3 separate regions of the Homo sapiens genome follow, and all the other regions are linked to region 3. Evidence: fine-mapped expression QTL. A gene starts in region 3. Each other region holds a variant in brackets. All regions are shown on one strand. Distances are between the middles of the regions.

Region 1 (2,759 bases), 170 kb before region 3:
CACAGCCTCAGGGCAATGAAGGGAATGTAGCACTATGCCAGATATCATGAGGACACAACAGGCCGCAGGAGCCCAGCATCAATTGATTATGTACAGAACTCTGGCTAGAAGTGGGGAATCAAAAGCTCCAACAAATAATTTATCATGAAAGTTAAAATTGAGGAGAAATGTGGGATTAAATACAAAAAGGAAGATCCATTCTATGCATAAAGGAATGAGGATGGAAGCTTATTGAAGCCATGAGCCATCATCGTTTCAGCTGAACATTGATTAGGCACCTATTATATGCCAAACACATATCCTGTCTAGATTCTAGAAATATATAGAAAAATAGAGTATGAGTAGAATATGAGCTTCAGGCAGACTGACCAACCAAAGGAAATGATCAAAAGCAAAAGTTGGGTCAGTCAGAAATCAAAATGCAGGAAGCTGGCTGGTGTTATACCACAAAGTGTGCTGTTTTTACATGGTATAGAGTCAGTTCCTCTGGTTGAGCCTTCCTTGACCACAGGCAATTAGTCATTGCTTCCTCCATCCCTACAGCTCTCTGTTCTTACCTCTACTGGAGAATTTATCCTGTTCTACCTCTTTTACTTTTTTATTTTCTTTTCAACAGAATTTGTAAGTCTCAATGTTCTACCTCTTTATGTTTGCTTTTCCCTAGATTGTATCTTCAACCCCTAGCACAAACCTTGGCATATAGGAGACATGTAATAAATGTGTTTCCATGATAAGCTTGAATCAATTAATAAAAGAGGAAAGTAACGTGCCTTGTTTGAAACCTCTCTTTAAGGCCACAGGTCTTGTCCTGCTGTATTAGAAAAGGCTGTTCTAAGAAAAAGGACTGAGTTAGAATGAAGTACATCCTTCACTCATCTTACAAAACCCTCTTTAAATTTCTTTAATACATAACTTGATGTAACACTGCAGAACTCTATAACTAAGTTAATGGCAATTCCAATTTAATAATTTTATTTATCAAGAAAGCTATAGGAAATAAAATCTTTCCATTACAGTAACAATTGGTTTGTCTATTGTACACTTCTTAAGGGCAAAAATTAAAAAGCATGTTTAAGGGAAAATAAAAGTTAGACATTTCAAGAAAATTGATATACCGTGAACCTCATCTTTCTATATGATGGTTTTCATATTCACTCGAAGAATGGGATTTAACTCTCTTCTCTCTCTCTCTCATTGTCTCTCCCCACCTCTCTCGCACGTGTGCGCGCTCACACACCCACACCCACCCACACACACAGACACTGTGGTACTTTAGTCTCATTAACAGGTGCCTTTCAGCTACTTCCTTTTTCTAAAACAAGAAGTATTGAGTCAGCAACTTGGCCAGGGGGAACTCAAAACAATGTCTATTAATAATGAAGAC[T/C]TCCTAATGTTGGCAAAATCTGTTTCCCCTTTAGAAGACTGAGAGAGCAAGCTACTAAAAGTTAGTATCCCTCACGAAGTCAAAGAGATTTAGGAAAAGCTTTCTAGAAGTCTTGATTTAGTTAAAATTTGGGCCACATATTTTGGGACAGAGCCCAGAGTTCTTTATGTTGGCTGTTGATAGAGGCAGCTTCCATTTCAAGATAAAAACTAACAAATAATTAAAATGTGTTAAATATTTACTGTGTTCTAAGTATTGTGATAAGCTCTTGTATGAACTTATTATTTGACCCCAACAACAGCCCTGATAGTGAAGCTGGGAGTGGAGATCTGGTCTTTCTGATTTAAAGGAGATGCTCTTTGCTGTTACCTTAAACTGTGTTCATCTGAAGTCCCTAATTTAGGATAAACGTGGGTGAGACATGGATGGAGTCTCTATTCTGAAGAACTTGCATTCCACAAATTTCTCATTGAGAGAAGCAGAGAAAGAGAATGCCAGTTTCCCAAGATGTCTCAGGAATAGGATTCAGGGTTTGGGATTGAATATCAGACAAACCTACATATTCCCTCCCTCTGCTTACATTGTAAGGTGTTGGCTCATTTCTGAAAGCAAAGGCATTTAAACTATCTCACGGACAACTCACTCTGGCCCAAACCACCACATTCACTTGAAACAAGAAGTGTATGCAGTGGTTCAGGGTGACCCAGCTAAGAGCAGTCCCATTTAAAGCTATTAAGTGTGGTTTCTTTTTCAGTGAGGTCATCCTGTTTAATCTCTCTGAATTGAAACAGCCTATAAAGCAGCCTCTCAAAAAGCTTATCTCAATTTGTTTCTGGGTGGACTAGAAGCTTCAACTTTTTAAGAGTGCCTTCTTAAAGTGAGGAGGAGGAAGAGTTTGGTAGCAAGAGGAAGGACTGGTAAGAAGGACAAAAGCAGTAAAATGTAGTCACATGGAGAAACTACTGAAGGGATTGCAAAAGGACACAGAAAGAGGTTGGGAGCACAGACAAGGAGGAAGTTTGAAGACTCCCTGTCCATTTTCTCACCATTCAGTAGATCTGTTCTTGCTTAGAACCAACTGTAAGAAAGAGAAGATATAGGAAGAATCACATTTCAGAGAATGTGTTTCCATATCCCACCATGGAAAACTGCCCACTGCAGTTTCAGCTTGTTTATAATGCATCACAGTGATGCCTTCCTGGAAACATGTATAAAATAAAAGGTATATGTCTTATTTAAAATTCTCTATTGACAGGTTTCTAAAATCAGAAACTTTGGGCGGAATGGGGAGGATGTGAGTAGTAATCTCACTTGAACATGCCCTCCAGGTAAAGTTAGAGGACCAGTGGCTTCTATGCCTTTGTCTCACCCACAC
Region 2 (2,759 bases), 130 kb before region 3:
AAACAGAACCAATGACAAAAACCACATGATTATCTCAATAGATGCAGAAAAGGCCTTCGATAAAATTCAACACCGCTTCATGTTAAAAACTCTCAATAAACTAGGTATTCATGGAACGTATCTCAAAATAATAAGAGCTATTTATGACAAACCCACAGCCAATATCATACTAAATGGGCAAAAGCTGGAAGCATTTCCTTTGAAAACTGGCACAGAACAAGGATGCCCTCTCTCACCCCTCCTATTCAACATAGTATTGGAAGCTCTGGCCAGGGCAATCAGGCAAGAGAAAGAAATAAAGGGTATTCAATTAGGAAAAGAGGAAGTCAAACTGTCTCTGTTTGCAGATGACATGATTGTATATTTAGGAAACCCCATCATCTCAGCCCAAAAACTCCTTAAGCTGATAAGCAACTTCAGCAAAGTCTCAGAATACAAAATCAATGTGCAAATATCACAAGCATTCCTGCATGCCAATAATAGACAAACAGAGAGCCAAATCATAGGTGAACTCTTATTCACTATTGCTACAAAGAGAATAAAATACCTAGGAATACAACTTACAAGGGATGTGAAGGACCTCTTCAAGGAGAACTGTAAAATGCTACTCAAGGAAATAAGAGAAGATGCAAACAAATGGAAAAACATTCCATCCTCATGAATAAGAAGAATCAATATCTTGAAAATGGTCATACTGCCCAAAGTAATTTATAGATTCAATGCTATTCTCATCAAGATACCATTCACAGAATTGGAAAAAAACTACTTTAAATTTCATATGGAACCAAAAAAGAGCCCTTATAGCCAAGACAATTCCAGGCAAAAAGAACAAAGCTGGAGGAAACACACTACCTGACTTCAAACTATACTACAAGGCTACAGTAGCCAAAACAGCATGGTACTGGTACCAAAACAGATGTATAGAACAGAACAGAGGCCTCAGAAATAACGCCACACATCTGCAACCATTTGGTCTTTGACAAACCTGACAAAAACAAGCAATGGGGAAAGATTCCCTGTTTAATAAATGGTGCTGGAAAAACTGGCTAGCCATATGCAGAAAACTGAAACTGGACCCTTCCTTACAGCTTATACAAAAATTAACTCAAGATGGATTAAAGACTTAAACATAAGACCTAAAACCATAAAAACCTTAGAAAAACCAAAAAACCTAGGCAATACCATTTAGGACATAGGCATGGGCAAAAACTTCATGACTAAAACACGAAAAGCAATGGCAACAAAAGCCAAAATTGACAAATGGGATC[T/C]AATTAAACTAAAGAGCTTTTGCACAGCAAAGGAACTATCATCAGAGTGAACAGGCAACCTACAGAATGGGAGAAAATTTTTGCAAATCTATCCATCTGACAAAGGGCTAACATCCAGAATCTACAAGGAACTTAAAGTTACAAGAAAAAAAAACCCCATCAAAAAGTGGGCAAAGGATATAAACAGACACTTCTCAACAGAAGGCATTTATGCAGCCAACAAACATATGAAAAGAAACTCTTCATCACTGGTCATTAGAGAAATACAAATCAAAACCCAATGAGATACCATCTCATGCCAGTTAGAATGGTGATCACTAAAATGTCAGGAAACAACAGATGCTGGTGAGGCTGTGGAGAAATAGGGACACTTCTACACTGTGGGTGGGAGTGTAATTTAGTTCAACCATTGTGGAAGACAGTGTGATGATTTCTCAAGGATCTAGAACCAGAAATACCATTTAACCCAGCAATCCCATTACTGCGTATATACCCAAAGGATTATAAATCATTCTACTATAAAGCCACATGCACATGTATGTTTACTGCAGCACTATTCACAATAGCAAAGACTTGGAACCAACACAAAAGCCTATCAATGATTAACTAGATAAAGAAAATGTGGGCTGGGCACGGTGGCTCACGCCTGTAATCCCAGCACTTTGGGAGCCCGAGGCAGGTGGATCACAAGGTCAGGAGATTGAGGCCATCCTGGCTAACACAGTGAAACCCCGTCTCTACTAAAAATACAAAAAAAATTAGCTGGGCATGGTGGCATGTGCCTGTAGTCCCAGCTACTTGGGAGGCTGAGGCAGGAGAATCACTTGAACCTGGGAGGCAGAGGTTGCAGTGAGCCGTGATTGCGCCACTGCACTCCAGCCTGGGTGACAGAGAGAGACTCTGTCTTGGAGAAAAAAAGAAAAGAAAATGTGGCACATATATACCAAGGAATACTATGCAGCCATAAAAAATGATGAGTTCATGTCCTTTGCAGGGACATGGATGAAGCTGGAAACCATCATCCTCAGCAAACTGACACAGGAACAGAAAACCAAACACCACATGTTCTCACTCATAAGTGGGAGGTGAACAATGAGAACACATGGACCCAGGGAGGGGAACATCCCACACTGGGGCCTGTCAGTGTGTGGGCGGCTAGGAAAGGGATAGCATTAGGAGAAATACCTAATGTAGATGACAGGTTGATGGGTGCAGCAAACCAACATGGCACATGTATACCTATGTAACAAACCTGCACGTTCTGCACATGTATCCCAAAATTTAAAGTATAATAATAAAAAAGAAATTAAAAAATGTAAATAAAATAAAAAGGGAATGCACATAACTGTCAACTAAAATTGCCTACCTAAGTCTAAAGCAGTCCTTTTTCATCAAAAGGCTATGTTCCAATATATAACAGCCGTTAACAGTCAAAGATTTTCAAGATTACTTCTCTCCCAGAAGTTTTCTCTAGTTAAGGGAGAGCAGTAA
Region 3 (2,759 bases):
CTGGGCTGACCTTAGGCTCCAGCCCGCAACCCCAGTAGGTTTCTGTGCAAAAATCTTTTGAGATGAATGCATACTTTGTCTTCTAACAATGCATTCGTGACAGCTGTCTATCCAATCGGTCCGCCTCCGTTCAGAGCAGTTCGTGCCACAGAAGCATCTCCTGCGCTATAGTTATGCAACCTCACTCGCAGCGGGAGTTATTTCCTCCGTTCTGGCTGCGCCAGATTCATGTAACACGCCTACCCTGGGCTTCAATGGAAGTCGTTCTCCATTAACAATCACTCCAGCTTTCCGAGATGAATGCCCTGATAGCATACCCCTTGCGCAGTAAGAATCCAGGCAGCGAGGCGAGGTGTTAAAACACACATACATTCTCATATTCTCTCTCTCTCTCTCTCACACACACACACACACACACACACACACACATACACTTCGTGCATGCAGCTAGGGGACTGCAGCAGTGCAACCAGGGGGACAGCAGGAGGAGCTCTCTTTGCAGTCCCTGCTTCTAACCCCCACTAACTAAAGATGAACTCATGCCAGTTCCATTCTTTGCTCTGCAAAGAAAACACACACACACACACACACACACACACACACACACACACACACACGGCAGAAGAGAGTAGCCTCCAGATTTCCCCTCTGAGCACACTGTCTTTCTAGCCTCTTCGTTCAAGCAACCCGGATATTCCAAGCAGAGTAACGGGGAGTAACGCGCCACAACAATGCAACCTCCCTAGCAGCTCCCCTCGCAGCTCCCACCCCCGCCCCCTTTCGCGGCGTGCCAAGAGTTTGGAGCGCGCGCACGCACACCGAGCACGGTGCAGGGAGGATATCCCTCCGCCTCCCTCCCCCTTTCTCCGCTAAGTGGCTCGACAACGATTTGGGAAATGAAGGGAGGAGGGAACTACTTTCCTGAAACTTGCTATGCTGCACATGACTTCGAGTTGCAGTGATTCGCCCGGAGGCCGCGGCTTTTAGTCCTACCCACACACCCTCACAGCCTGGGCACCCCGCTCGGCAGCCCCACCCCGCGCCCGCTCTGGCCTCCGGGGAAAGCGGGCGGCCGGGAGAAGTCGCGAGGGACTACTTCGCCTCCTTCTCTCGCGGGCGCCCCCGGTTCGGGCAGCGGCTGCGGCGGCGGAAGGAGCGGGCGGCGTGAGCGCTTCCGCCGCCCCCCTCGCGGCTCCCCTCTCTCGGGCGTGAGGAGCTGGCCCGCTGAGCTGCTGGTGGGCACTGGCTGGCGGGGAACCTGCAGCCGCTCTTGTCCTCTCCCGCCGCTTCTCGGGATCCTGCCCCCCGGACCCGGGCCCGCCCGCTCTTCTCCGGCCGGGTGGGAACGATCGGTTTGCCTGCCCCTCGCCTCACACGCTCCCCGCCGCCCCCTCCACCCCCCTGAGGAGGAGTCCCGGCTGGAGCGTGTCTGGAGGAATCCGCCGCCGCGGGGCCCCTAGCCCTGCTCTGCCGGCGCCTGAGGACCGACCCAGACGCCGCCGGGGGTTGAGGGGCAGCCGGCGGCGAGGCGGGAGATGGTGGGGTGGGCTCCGGCAGGACCGCGCCGCCGCTGCCCGGAGCCTGGGCTCGGCACCCCCCCGCCGGCCCCCACCGAGCGGAGCTCTGCTTCCTCCTCGCCGCATCCCTGAGGGAAGCGCCGCCTCTGCTCCCGGGTTCTCCGCCCGCCGACTCCTTCCTGGCCGGACCCCGCTGCGCTCCACCCCAGTGGCTGGAGGAGCAGCTCTCCAGTCAGCCTTTGCAGCCCCTCTCTTTTTCCCTTTCCACCGGGCCTCCTCGGATCCCTTGGCTGGGCACTGAGGCGGGGGAAGAGGCTGGGGTCGCCACGGCGGAGGTTGCTGCCGCCACCCCCCTGCGGGGGTGGCCGGGGTTCCCGGCTGGGGGGGTACCGTTCTGGGTGAGGCATCCACCATGGTGAGGCCCCTGTGCCGCTGCCCCCGCGCCCCCCCGGCCGCCGCTGCCTCCTGCCCCTCGGTGCTGCTGTTGCTCCCCCGCCTGCTGTTGCTCCTCCATCTCCAGATCGGATCACGGTGAGGGAAAGATGAGCGAGGAGACGGCGACTTCTGACAACGAGTAAGCGCCTCATTGATCTCGATTGCTAATCCCCCTCCCCCTATCCGCCCTCGGCTCTCCCCCAGACCCATCCGAAACTTGGGTGCCGGAAAGCTTGCGACCCTGGAGAGTTCGGTGCATCTTCTGGAGATAGCTGATTTCTTTAGCCATTTTTAGTGGCAGCACCCCTCCCCATCCTCCCACATTTAGCTGCTTTCTTTTGGGGTAGGGGATTAAGTGTTGGGAGAGGATGGCAATTGTACGTCTATGAGAGGGAATAATGTGGATGGATGGAAGTGGAGTAGAAACTACCCCTTTGCCTGTGAGACCCCTGTCCCGTCCTTTTTCACTCACATACCAGTCACCATACCTTCAGTATCCATCCTACTTCCTTTATAGCTGTTTCACTTGGAAACTAATGTGTGGGAGCACCTCCTGCAGCAAACTGCTCTTGAATCTTAATTCGATGAGTCAGTGACTCTTAAATACCGATTAAGCCTTCACCCTCTCCCCCCTCCCCCTTTTAAACTTATGACCTGTAAGATTCTTGTAAAAAATAGGGTTAGGGAAACATTTTTAGAATTTAATAGGATTAAGGACACCTGGAGTGTGGGCGATGTTGAGCTAGAGTTTACCTTTGTGAATATTGGACGTGTCTTCAGGAACGGAGAAGAATTTTGAATGCTAAT

The links. PIP is the estimated chance that this variant, and not a neighbour inherited with it, causes the effect.
Region 1: its variant is the best candidate, but not a certain one, in a credible set for the expression of SPRED1 in whole blood (TOPMed, PIP 0.56).
Region 2: its variant is the best candidate, but not a certain one, in a credible set for the expression of SPRED1 in monocytes (TOPMed, PIP 0.55).

What each region holds. Positions count from the first base shown.
Region 1 is chr15:38,084,021-38,086,779 of GRCh38, forward strand. No RefSeq gene overlaps it. Among named protein-coding and RNA genes, the nearest start is that of LINC01852, 12 kb to the left of the region's middle. RefSeq lists a silencer at 1,995-2,054. The variant T/C (reference allele first, on the strand shown) is at 1,385.
Region 2 is chr15:38,123,599-38,126,357 of GRCh38, forward strand. No RefSeq gene overlaps it. Among named protein-coding and RNA genes, the nearest start is that of LINC01852, 52 kb to the left of the region's middle. The variant T/C (reference allele first, on the strand shown) is at 1,269.
Region 3 is chr15:38,251,127-38,253,885 of GRCh38, forward strand. SPRED1 (sprouty related EVH1 domain containing 1) reads left to right here and starts at 1,710. Exons shown (of 7, transcript NM_152594.3): 1 at 1,710-2,091. The coding sequence starts at 2,060. RefSeq lists silencers at 122-416, 180-229, 1,060-1,359, 1,370-1,419, 1,520-1,619 and 2 more.